Regions from separate parts of the Homo sapiens genome. Here all the other regions are linked to region 3. The links come from fine-mapping of genetic effects on gene expression. A gene starts in region 3. Each other region holds a variant in brackets. All regions are shown on one strand. Distances are from middle to middle.

Region 1 (4,248 bases), 470 kb after region 3:
AGAAGGCACCTCTGGCCAATGGGATAGTGAATTAAATGAAAGAGGACATTTTTGAATCCCGCAAGACAAAAGGGGAACACAAAACTAGATAATTCACAATCCCATTGCCTATCATAAAAGCAAACAAACAAAACCATTGAAGTTTTCGAGTTTTGAAATACTGTGAGACAGGAGTATCATTAAATTAAAAATCTTGTAAAACACTGTAATACCACACATAAAAAAATAGACAAGAGAAGATTAACAGATTCAAAATGAGCTTTTGAAAGAAATCTGAAAACAAAATTCAACACATATTAACTGAGGAAATTTTCCCTCAGACTAATAACCATGAAGCAGAAGAAAACTCCAAGTCAAAACTATAAATGGAATGAGATAGTCTCACAAGTAAATGAAGATTTGAAAAAATAATCTAAATCAGAAATTCAAAATCTGAGGCTAGACATGGAAAAAACCAGTAAAAATTAAAAGAAAGTTGATTGAATTCAAAAAAGAAATGGAATTAAAAGACAAAATTAACATAGAAATGAAGAATGGATTTTAAGACGCCCATGAGAGAATTGATTTTAAAAAATTAAATAAGGAGCATTGAAGAAAAACAGAAAAATAATTAAGAGAATAAAAATGAGTGAAGAAGTGAATATGATACAAAGATAGAAAGAGAAGGAGTAATATGTGTATTATTGCAATCCCTGAACAAAACAAAGAGTGAAAAGCAAAACTTTAGGACATTAGACATTAGAAAATAACTATTAACAAAAACATTGGAAAATAATGTTTGAAATTATAATCACAGAAAACTTCCCAGACATTTAATAAAAAGTTTGAACCTAAAAATGGGAAGACCCCACTGGGTACTTGGGAAAATACAGTTTATGAGAAAATTTAGTTTATCATTAACCCAGACTGATAAACTTTAAGACATATTCTAATAACCATTAGGTTTCAGAGTTAAAAGAAAAATTCTCATGACCTCATGGCCTAAATAAACAAACATGTAACTTGCAATGACAGATATATTGGACTGGCATTGGTCTTTTGATAACCCAATTTTAAAGCAGTAGTATAAAAAAATGCTTAATGAGAAAAACTAGTGTAAATTAAGTATTTGATATTCAGCCAAACTGTCCCTCCAGAACCAAGCAAGACTACAGGAAAATAGATAATAACAAGCAAGAACTTAGGTAAATTTGTATGCAGTAACCTTCTTGGGTAATCTATTAGAATATGAACTTTATATTTTTAATAACATCATTTAAAAGAAGCCTGGGACCATTTTTGGAAAATTCTTTTTAATTCAAACATTCCAAGCATATTGAACTAATGGAAAATTTAATTTCCTGAGAAATGTATGCACCAATATTGGTGGATGTACTTGAGAAAAATAATTAACACTATATTCCCAATAGGGTTTTTTCTTTATTTGGGAAACATTAATAAATTAATAAATTTATTCTGGGGATTAAAGGGACTTGAAACCTTCAAAGGGAAATTCACCAAGAATCTTGAAAATTATTCAAGTATAAATGAGTATGGAGGGGAAAATTATGAGGCATAAAAC[A/G]CCTGTCCTCAACAGGTAAAACTAATCAGATAAGAAGTTTAAAAATTTACTATTTGGAAAACAATAACTTGGCATCAAATCAGTGTGGCTAAAGGATTAACCAAGGAGATCTCTATAAAACAAACAAAAACTCTTAAACAGAAATAGTACTTCTTGAAAAACAAAACTACAATATTCAGACCAAATTTGATTTGTACCTCCTCCAAGCTTGAAGGTTTGTAAAGAAAGCTGGTGCCTTATGTCATCCCAGATTTGCAACCAGGTAGCACCATGGAAACATGCTGACTTAGTAGTTAAAACTTCTTCTCCATCAAATGATGGCAGTAATCCCACACCCCGAAAATACAAAGACACAAGGAGCATTATCTTTATTAATTTGCAGATATTAATCTGCAAACCATTTGATTGTGAATCAGACTTCCCTGAGTTTCCAGAGCGCTTTCAGGTTCAATTCTGTGTTCAACTAGGGGCATTTTTCACTTTTTAGTATCTGGTCAAGTTCTAATCTTTGTTCTTTCCCCCTGGAAAAAAAAATGCAGTTTATTGAAAATTAGAGCCAATTATGTTATTGCATTTTTCAAAAATATATCTAAGAGACCTTGGAATTATTATAAATTTTTTTGTCCCTTAACCTGGAAACATTTTTGATTAGCCTATGAGGTGGTGATACTTTTCCTATAACTGAATACATTTCTGTTTGTTTATATATTTTAAAAATTCAATTATATCCCTGTCTATCACCACTTGTATATTTAGCATTGGTATTACTTCATTGAGGAGGAACAATTTATGTGTTCCCTGACTTGGTAGCTTGCCATACCTTAGGGAATCCTCTCAATATTTTTTTCCTATGTCTGTGTCTGAAGTTGAAAATCCCAAGCAATTTTATGTCCTTACATACTGCTAACTATCCACCTCTGCCCAATACAATGACATCTATATTGTCCCACATCTCTGGTTTTACTTCAAAGACACTTCTATAACCAGAGTATATGGGACAAGTGGCTTGAATAGGGCAGAGAACAATATTGAGTATCTAAGAGTCAGATGTTGTGATGGACATTTTAAACCTGCCATCTAATTTCATCTTATTATTTCATGGAAGAGAACATTGTGTCTCAAAGAGGTTAGGTAAGCTTTCCAAGACAAATTCAAGCTTATCTTAATCCAAAGCCAAGTAGTACAAGAACATGATATGAGAAAAAGCAAGAAAATTCTGAATGCTCTTTTAAATGATTTTTAAATCTGGTTAACCCAGCCTTTCCTATTCTTGTGATCTTTGACATTAGAGACTTTGAGAGAGTGTTGAGGGTGGTGGGTAACTAGGTATAGAATTATCAGTTCCATTTGGAAGATTGCAAAATAACAAAATTACTAATTACGAAGTGAGAAAGGAAAAGAGTCTTTGTGAACATTCATCTTTCCTTCAGAAATATAGTATCCTAACCACATTGAATTTTTCCTTCCTAACCATCTCTAAAAACTATTATCTGAACTAAAAATCTCAGCACTAATCTAGTTAAAATATGTATTTGTCTTGTTTTACCAGAAAAGTTCTTTGAAGGCAGCAGTCTTGATATATACAGTCATGCACCATATAGCAACGTTTTAATCAATGACAAACTGCGTATCTGACAGTGGTCCCATAAGATTATATTATATTTTTACTATACATTCTCCATGTTTAGATATGTTTAGACACACAGATACTTACCATTGTGTTTTAATTGCCTACAGTATTCACTAGAATATGCTGTACAGGTTTGTAGCCTAGGGGCAATAGGCTATAGCATATATCCAAGGCGTGTAGTAGGCTATACCATGTAGGTTTTGGGAAGTACACTCTATGAAACCTGTGTAATAATGAAATTGCCTAAGGATACATTTCTCAGAACCTATACATGTTGTTAAGTGACACATGACTGTATATTTCTTTAGTATGCTCCAATTCCCAAATGGAGGTTAATCTCATAGAATTGAGTTTTGTTGAACCAACCTGTCCCAGGTTTCAACCCTTGTTGTGATTTTCCTAACCTTCTACTTTCTCTGTTGTGAGCTGCAGCAACATTTTATAGAGTTGTTATTTTACTGAGCTGTTTCTCTGGAAGCAGTTGTAATGTCTGTGGGGATAATGTACCACTTTCCTTTTTAGAGGAGCACTGAGAAATCCAGAGAAGCTTTTGGAAGGTATTGACACTGCTCAAAAGGAAACATTTTAAAATGAAAACTAGACACTTGACAATTAAAATTCTTCATGATATGACTCTGTTTTATCATGAAGCTTGAGGTTTCTGAGATGTTACCCATCTCATTCATGTATGTCTGTACCTACTTATATGTCTATCTGAATACTGCAGAAACACAAGGCATTTGGGTAGAGAAAAGCATTCTATATTGATGCTCACAACCACATCAACAGTAACATTGTTGCATTGGTCCCTCACACCTAGACCTATAGGCAACATGATGAGTTCTAATGAAAACTTTCCAGGCAAGTGGTTAAGTTTCACTGGTAGAGGAGAGATGATAACAGAAACAGCAATGGATTTATCAGCTTTCACTCTTCCCTTCTGAAAGATGGGATAGATAGGATCCTGGATTGCACTCACTGTTTTTAATATGTAAATACACCTTTCCAAGGAACAAGTAAGCCCTAGTGTCTATGGCTTTTATGACCTAAACATATC
Region 2 (4,248 bases), 160 kb after region 3:
TGTTTAAAAAACATTAGCATTCCCTTTAAATATGGCACTGTTTACTTTAAGGAATAAGTATTTGCAGGCTTATTGTGACTTCCCCATAAGTGCTTTCCTTGCAGCACCTAAGACATTGCTTTATACAGACTAAAAACTGAGTTGTCTTAAAAGATATATTAAATAATGAGCTGATTATGGATGACAGCTTATAAGCAGTTCAATTTTAGTTTTTCAGTTGTAAATTTTCTTTTCAAATCTCTAAGATTGCTTTATATACAGAGGTAGGTAATCAAAGGTAAGAAATCTTTATAACCTGCAGGGTAATGTGAGTCATGCAGATGCCTCACTTCTTCCTTCTGTGTTGTCCTCGATGATCAGGAGTTTTCTATTTTGTATATGAATGTTTCTATGAATGTTTCTATGCTGTACTCTTGGGCTGAAGTGATCCTCCCGCCTCAGCATCTCAGCATCCTGAGTAGCTGGGATGAGAGGTGTATGCTAACACGCCCGGTTAAACTTTGTTTGTTTTATTTTTTGCAGGAATGAGGTCTTGCTATGTTGTCCAGGTTAGTGTAGAACTCCTGGCCTCAAGTGATCCTCCTGTCTCAGGCTTCCAAGGTGCTGAGATTACAGGCATGGGCCACTGTGCCCTGCAAGATACTTAATATTAACTCACACACATTATGTTGTTTAAACATGGCTTATATGCTATGCTACATGAAACATTTAATCAAGCTCAAGTATTCCTCTATTATCAAATATGTGAATGGGTCCAATTTTTTTCCTGCTATGAATAGTGGTGAAAAGTCTTAATTTTGGGGTTAATTTTTGTTAATTTTCCTCAAAGTGAAATTAACAAGTCAGTGGGCATGAACCATTTTATTCATTATTCTTTTATCAATTATTATTTATTTCTTAATTTATGTCAGAAATCGTGTTCACTGCTGGGCATATGGTGGTGATTACTGAAAAATAAAAAAAAGGTTTTTGCCCTTAATTTTGTAGGTCTGGTCACACATGCCAGGTTGCTCTCCAGAGAGTGAACAATTTACAAAACACTCAACTATTCTCATTCCCTCCAACTTTACCAGCATTGGTTATAAAATTTTATTTCCTTTTTTCTAGTTTAATAACTATGTCATGGCACCTGAAAATTATTTTGATTAGCAATTGTTTAGTTGCAAGTAAAGTGTGCATTTCTTCAAAAATCATCAATTTATTCATCTTTTCTCTTTTGTTTTAATAGGATAATTGGTAAATTATTTTCCCTTTTATTAAATAGGAATTTCTCTTTTTTTCTCTAGTTTCTTAGAATTCTACTTTGAGTTTTAAATAGACAGTAATCAGACATAGTAGAAGAATAAAGTTTGACAATTCTAATAAATACCCTTCTTGGAATAGGAAATAGAATGAATTTAAAGACGTTAAAGCAATCATAATAAAGTTGGCTTAAATGATTAAAAATCTCCATGAGCACAGATAGCATTTTTGCTTATCCATGAATATATAACACTGATTTTTCAACAAACATAGCTAGAAGAAATAGAGCATAATAAGGTAATTAATGAGTCCTTTAGGAAACAAAGCTACATTAAACACATTTTTATTTACTTAAGAAAAAAAAACAACAAAAAAAAGAAAAAACCTCAAAGCAAAAGTGATCTTTATCAAATCATCATTGAATAGACTTCTTCTTCAGGAGCTTACAGAGATATTTTGAATTTAAAAAACCTCTTGGTCTGACAGTAACTTAAGCAGGTATCCTGATTCATTAACAACAATGTCACAGCTGCAGCACTAACATAGCCACCAAGCAACTTTAGATTGTTGGTTCAGCTGAGACAGCTCAGCTTGTAAATCAGATCTACCCTGGCTGGCTTTGATTGAGTCAGCGCCTCTCCTTCCTAGAGCTTCAAAGGCTTTCCTAGGAGTCTTTCCTATCAGTCATGGGCCCTTTGGCTTCCTCTCTCAGGAACTCTCCTCTGGTAGGTTTTGTTTTGTATTCTAAGGGAAAAGATTGAATATGGAAATTCTTTGGAGGGTGGGGGGTGCAAAACACCACACAAAAATAAGGAACAACAAAACTCACAAAACTTGGCC[C/T]GTAACAGAAGTTCTTTTTTTTTTTTAATTTTGGAAACCTGCAAAATGGCATTTGAGTTATTTCTTTTCTCCCTCAAGAGTTTCTTTTTCTGCTAACTTGTAGATTTCCTCACCCAATCTCTCTCTCTCCAGGGCCCAAACACATACACAGACACACAGACACACAGACACACACACACACCCCCACAGTTGATGTGTTGATGTGATGGTACTGAAACTGATACAATCTTTAAAAATAAATTCCTAGAACTTAATGAAATTACTGTTATTTGATCATTGGTTAATCCAAGATAAAGTCAAAAATCTATCTTCCTTCAATAGGAAACTTCATAAATGTATAAATTCTGTAAACCGGAAAGTGACTGAGGCAGGTCTTAATTGATTAGACGTTTCTTTAGCCAAGGTTGAGAGGACGTGCTTGGGAAAAAACACAAATCACAGGAGCACCTGTGACCTATGCTTTTTCCAAAGGGGATTTTGGGAACTGCAATATGTAAAGGGAAAGGAGCAAGCAGGAGGGGAAAAAAAGAAGGGAATTTAGGCAGTGAGGTTCTCATTAGCTTCAGTAAATCTACATTTTACATGTGAAAAGAGAGTAGAGGAAAAGTTAATTATGCGTTGTCATGCTCAGTAAATCTATATTTAACTTTTTAAAAATTTAAATAGGTTTATGGGGGACAGGTGGTGTTTGGTTACATGAATAAGTTCTTTTTTTTTTTTTTTTTTTTAAGCAGAGTCTCACTCTGTAGCCCCTGCTGGAGTGCAGTGGAGCGATGTTGGTGATCTGCCTCCCAGGTAAAGCAATTCTCGTGCCTCAGACTCCTGAATAGCTGGGACTACAGGCCTGTACCACCACACCCAGCTAGGTTTTGTATTTTTAGTAGAGATGGGGTGTTGCCATGGTGGCCAGGCTGGTCTCAAACTCCTGACCTCAAGTGATCCACCCGCCTTGGCCTCCCAAAGTGCTGGGATTACAGGCATGAATCACTGTGCCTGGCCCATGAATAAGTTCCTTAGTAGTGATTTCTGAGATTTTGGTGGACCCACCACCTGAGCAGTGCACACTGTACCTAATGTGTAGTCTTTTATCCCTCACCCCCTCATACCCTTTCTCCCGAGTCCCCAAAGTCCAGTGTATCATTCTTATGCCTTTACATCCTCATATCTTAGCTCCAGCTTAAGAGTGAGAACATAACGATGTTTGGTTTTTCACTCCTGAGTTACTTCACTTAGAATAATGGTCTCCAATTCCATCCTGGTTGCTGCAAATGCTATTATTTCATTCCTTTTTATGGCTGAGTAATATTACATAATATATATATATACCACATTTTCTTTGTCCAGTCATTGATGATTGATGGGCATTTGGGCTGGTTCTGTATTCTTGCAATTGTGAATTGTGCTGCTATAAACGTGTGTGTAAGTATCTTTATCCTATAATGACTTCTCTTCCTCTGGGTGGATACCCAGTAGTGGGATTGCTGGATCAAATGGTAGATCTACTTTTAGTTCTTTAAGGAATATCCACACTGTTTTCCATAGTGGTTGTACTAGTTTACGTTCCCACCAACAGTATGAAAGTGTTCCCATTTCACCACATCCATGCCAACATCTATTATTTTTTGATTATGGCCATTCTTGCAGGAGTAAAGTGGTATTTATTGCACTGTGGTTTTGCTTTGCATTTCCCTGATAATTACTGATGTTGAGCATTTTTTCATGTTTGTTGGCCATTTGTATATCTTCTTTTGAGAATTGTCTATTCATGTCCTTAGCCCACTTTCTGATGAAATTTTTTTTTTTTCTTGCTGATTTGAGTTCTTTGTAGATTCTGGATATTAGTCTATTCTTGGAAGTATAGCTTGAGACAGTTTTCTCCCAATCTATGGATTGTCTGTTTGCTCTGCTGATTTATTTCTTTTGCTGTGCAGAAACTTTTTAGTTTAAGTAAGTCCCATCTATTTATCTTTGTTTTTGTTGCATTTGCTTTTGGGTTCTTGGTCATGAAGTCTTTGCCTAAGCCAATATCTAGAAGAGTTTTTCTGATGTCATCTTCTAGAATTTTTATGGTTTCAGGTCTTAGATTTAAGTCTTTGATCAATCTTGAGTTGATTTTTGTATAAGGTGATAGATGAAGATCCAGTTTCATTCTTCTACATGTGGCTT
Region 3 (4,248 bases):
AGTGTCCTCTCTCAATGTAAGATAGCACCTGTCAATGTAAGATAGCACCTGTCATACAACTCAGAATGCAGACAAGTGAAAGGTCTTGGGGAGCTGACCTTAATTGCTTCTCTGGGTCAACAGGCCAGAACACCTAATAAGGACATGGAGGGGCTGACCTAGTAACAGCATCTGCATCAAAGAGAAACTACACTGTTCACAAGATTAACTTTCTGATACTAAGAAGGGAACAGTAACTTCCTTATTTAGAAGCTGGTGGGTTTTTACCATATTTCCTAAGGGGGTGAATGATTAGCAATCAAGTTCAACCCAAAGAAAGTGCCCATTAGAATCGAGCTATGTAATTACTAATATATGTCTTTAAGTTGTACAAACAAGCGTTTATATTTACCAGATCTTGAATTTTTTCGCTTGAAACCATCCTGGACCCTTTAATTCAACCACAAGTTTGCTTTCGAACTGAACTCACATAAATACGAGTAACACTTTGTCCTCATTTATTCTGAACATTCAGAAATAAAAAACTAAAATAAGAAACAACTTTTTTTTTCTTTTGCAGAAGCAAAGGGACTCAGTACCACAGGAAGTTCGCTTTTCTGTGTCACTATATCAAAAGCTACCACAAATGCAGACAATAACGGCTCTTTAATATTAAAGGGAAAAGCTAACCTGTCCAGCTACAGCAGCAAAGTAACCATACAGCGGATCCTGAGTTTGTCCGGGAAACGCAGGCCCTCCGGGAGCCCCTCCATACTGTGAAACAGGAAACACATACACGTCATTCTGCCGAATCAAGTTTTCTTCTTTCACCACTGAGGGCTTTTGTGCAAGGCCAGACAACTGCCCGCCTGCCCGCCCTTCACAAGGCTCACCTCCCCACCACCGGGCACACTCTGCCAACACTCCACCCCTCTCTTCCATTCACACCCCGTAATTTAAAAACTGGCGACTTAGACCATAAAGAGTTGCTGTGAAAGTGATGTCTACATATGTAAAGCAACTTTTAAAATCCCTATTAACCTGAAGGTTACTGAGGTGAGTGCAAACTAGGTAAGCCAACGAATGGCAGGGCTTCAAATTCTCCTTTTGTTGTTACAGCATTTATGGTATTTTAAGAGCGTTTTATGAACGATGGAAGGCTGGAGTTGGTAACATTCTGAGACGGGTGTAGCCTAGGGAAGAGTAAGGTGTCCGGCCGGGCTGTATCTCGTGGGTGGCGAGGGAACATTGCCTGTCTCGGAAACAGTTCCCAAGACAACGCGCATCCCAGACGCCCGGCGAGGCTGCCTTCCTACAGGTCTTTTACTTCAGCAGGTTTTCCCTTTTTTTCCGTCCCCCTTCTCACTCGTTTTTTGTTTGTTTGTTTGTTTGTTTGTTTGTTTGTTTTTTAAAGGGAGGAAGGTATATCATTCTAGAATAAAATGACTGTTGTTGCTCTGGGAGGCAACCAAGAAGGCGGGGGTGGGGTGGGGTGGGGGTCAGCCAACACCCAATTAACACGATTTCACGCCGCGTATCCGAGAAGCCGCAGGGTGGGCTTCTAGGGTCCCAATCCACCCTCACCTTGGCCCCGCAGGGCCATCCAGGAGAAGGGACGGGGAAACGTGGGGAGAGGCCGAACCCCAGGGGCCTAGGGCGAGGCCGCGAGCGCAGGGAGAAGCCGAGGGCGGAAGGAGCCCGGGTAGCCGCCCAGCAGCGCCTCACCCCGCTGGCCGCAGCATCTCCAAGGTGGCCTCTTAGCGCCCCGGAGCCGCCTGGGCCGCGATCCCGCGCAGTCAGCACTTACCCCGCCTGGGTAGTACCCGCCGCCGGCGCCAGGATGCCCCGGGTACGCCATGCTGCAGACTGCGCCGCAGCCGCCCTCGCCCTGTGCGCCAGGCCTCTCCGCCCCCTGCCCCGCCCCGCCCTGCCGCTAGGGGGCCGCCCCAGAGCGCACCACGCGGGCGTGGGGGACGCGCTCCGCAGTCGTCTCCAGCTCTTGCCTGTGCGCGCGGCCGTGGCTCCCCTGCCTGCGCGCTTCTTCGTATCTTTGCCATTACGGCGCTAATGCAGTGCACGACTGAAGGTCCAGTGGCGGCCTACGACCTGCGAGGCAATTCACACCAGGGACTTTCCTCCCTCCAAAACTAATGGCACATTCCAACACCAATACACCACCCCAGGAATTCTTTTTTTTTTTTTTTCCTTCGGACTTGGCTATTATCTGGCACATTTCTTATTTTAAACAACTTTATTGGACAGGACGGAGCTATTATAAGCGGAGCGCACCATCGCGAGGCAGGGGCTGGATGCGTTAGGGCAAGCCTTAGGTGCCAGTGGGTGAAGGAGTCTTTGAAAGATGGAAATACGAAAGCGCCCTTGGAAAATAAGAATTAACTTGACGAACTGTGTGCAAGGGAGAGTTTGGCTTGCTGTTGGTTGCAGAGTTCACTGAACGACAACGGCGTATTTCCTTCCTAGGGGACAATTCCTTGCCTGTTTAAGCTGAGCGTGACTTGTGTCCTGAGTAGGACAGAGGGCATTTTCCGGGCAGGACAGACTCACACATATCGTTCTTAGGAAAATGAATTGTTTGAATTATCTGGATGATTCAGACAAAACAATCCATTTCCCTAAAAGTATTCAGCTACTTTTTATATAAGAAAAGTTTAGAACAAACTAATAGTGTACTGGTAAGTATTCAGGAAGATAAGAGATAGGAACTTCTATGTAGGTTATTCTTCTTTACTTCATATATTTTTCTATCTTCCAGTTGAATAGTCCGAAGCAATTCAGGCGTGAGCTTTTTGTTTTGTTTTGTGTAATTTCAATGACAGAAAATTGCTTGCCCTTCACTGTTAAGGACTAGACTTAATGATTTCCTGAATTTTAACGTATTGAGAAACGCATTAATAAGCAAGATTCACAGTATTTGTTGTGGAGGTTGCACAGAAACATTTAAAGGGTCATCAACATTTCACAAATATTGGAGCACCCGCCAATGTGGTACTGTGCTTTTTCGCTGTGGTGGACGGGCTTCCTCCATTCTAAATTCGTGGGCTATTGTCCTCATTCGGTTCATTGTTTTTCTCTTGTGTGTAACTTCCCTCGCAAGCCCTTTTGAAAACCAAAGTCCGAATTGTGAGAAAAATTCTAATAGTCCCTGTTGTGGCATAGCAAAGACACTGCATGTTGCCTGTTTTGTGTTTGATTCAGGAAGCAGGTTACTGTTTTCAATCATCAAGGTAGCAATCATCAAGGTAGATGAGACATCTAATGAGTCCCCTGGTCTCTCTTTGGAAGCCTGTTTCTTCAGAAAGAGGTAACCGACTATAAAGAGTAGATGTCAGGGCCGAACTCGATGTTGAGTACAAGCTCAAGACTCAAGTTTGAAAGAAGTATAAAGCATATAAAATATTTTTAAGTACTGCAGAATTAGCTTCGTGGATAAACGGCTATACGAATTGGCATATCAGTTGTCCTTAGACATCTTCCCACTGCTTTACTGCTAAAGAATTGAATTTTTTTTTTAATTACACTTTAAGTTTTAGGGTACATGTGAACATTGTGCAGGTTGGTTACATATGTATACATGTGCCATGCTGGTGCGCTGCACCCACTAACTCGTCATCTAGCATTAGGTATATCTCCCAATGCTATCCCTCTCCCCTCCCCCCACCCCACCACAGTCCCTAGAGTGTGATATTCCCCTTCCTGTGTCCATGTGATCTCATCGTTCAGTTCCCACCTATGAGTGAGAATATGCGGTGTTTGGTTTTTTGGTCTTGCGATAGTTTACTGAGAATGATGATTTCCAATTTCATCCATGTCCCTACAAAGGACATGAACTCATCATTTTTTATGGCTGCATAGTATTCCATGGTGTATATGTGCCACATTTTCTTAATCCAGTCTATCATTGTTGGACATTTGGGTTGGTTCCAAGTCTTTGCTATTGTGAATAATGCCGCAATAAACATACGTGTGCATGTGTCTTTATAGCAGCATGATTTATAGTCCTTTGGGTATATACCCAGTAATGGGATGGCGGGTCAAATGGTAATTCTAGTTCTAGATCCCTGAGGAATCGCCACACTGACTTCCACAATGGTTGAACTAGTTTACAGTCCCACCAACAGTGTAAAAGTGTTCCTATTTCTCCACATCCTCTCCAGCACCTGTTGTTTCCTGACTTTTTAATGATTGCCATTCTAACTGGTGTGAGATGGTATCTCATAGTGGTTTTGATTTGCATTTCTCTGATGGCCA

Which allele goes with the higher level. Alleles are on the strand shown, and positions count from the first base shown. SD is a standard deviation of normalised expression in the study named. Not every link is listed here.
For the expression in pancreas of the gene that starts at base 1,849 in region 3, A is the high allele of the variant in region 1 and G is the other (small effect, 0.26 SD a copy in GTEx).

The links. PIP is the estimated chance that this variant, and not a neighbour inherited with it, causes the effect.
Region 1: its variant is the best candidate, but not a certain one, in a credible set for the expression of SRI in pancreas (GTEx, PIP 0.79).
Region 2: its variant is the best candidate, but not a certain one, in a credible set for the expression of SRI in whole blood (INTERVAL, PIP 0.86).

What each region holds. Positions count from the first base shown.
Region 1 is chr7:88,691,705-88,695,952 of GRCh38, forward strand. The region is part of intron 1 of LOC107986816 (a long non-coding RNA gene); the gene reads left to right. Among named protein-coding and RNA genes, the nearest start is that of ZNF804B, 66 kb to the right of the region's middle. The variant A/G (reference allele first, on the strand shown) is at 1,562.
Region 2 is chr7:88,375,775-88,380,022 of GRCh38, forward strand. No RefSeq gene overlaps it. Among named protein-coding and RNA genes, the nearest start is that of STEAP4, 71 kb to the left of the region's middle. The variant C/T (reference allele first, on the strand shown) is at 2,083.
Region 3 is chr7:88,218,190-88,222,437 of GRCh38, forward strand. SRI (sorcin) reads right to left here and starts at 1,849. Exons shown (of 8, transcript NM_003130.4): 1 at 1,787-1,849; 2 at 670-753. The coding sequence starts at 1,837. It overlaps SRI-AS1 (SRI antisense RNA 1), which reads left to right. Exons shown (of 3, transcript NR_120517.1): 2 at 560-1,035. RefSeq lists silencers at 835-924, 1,572-2,071.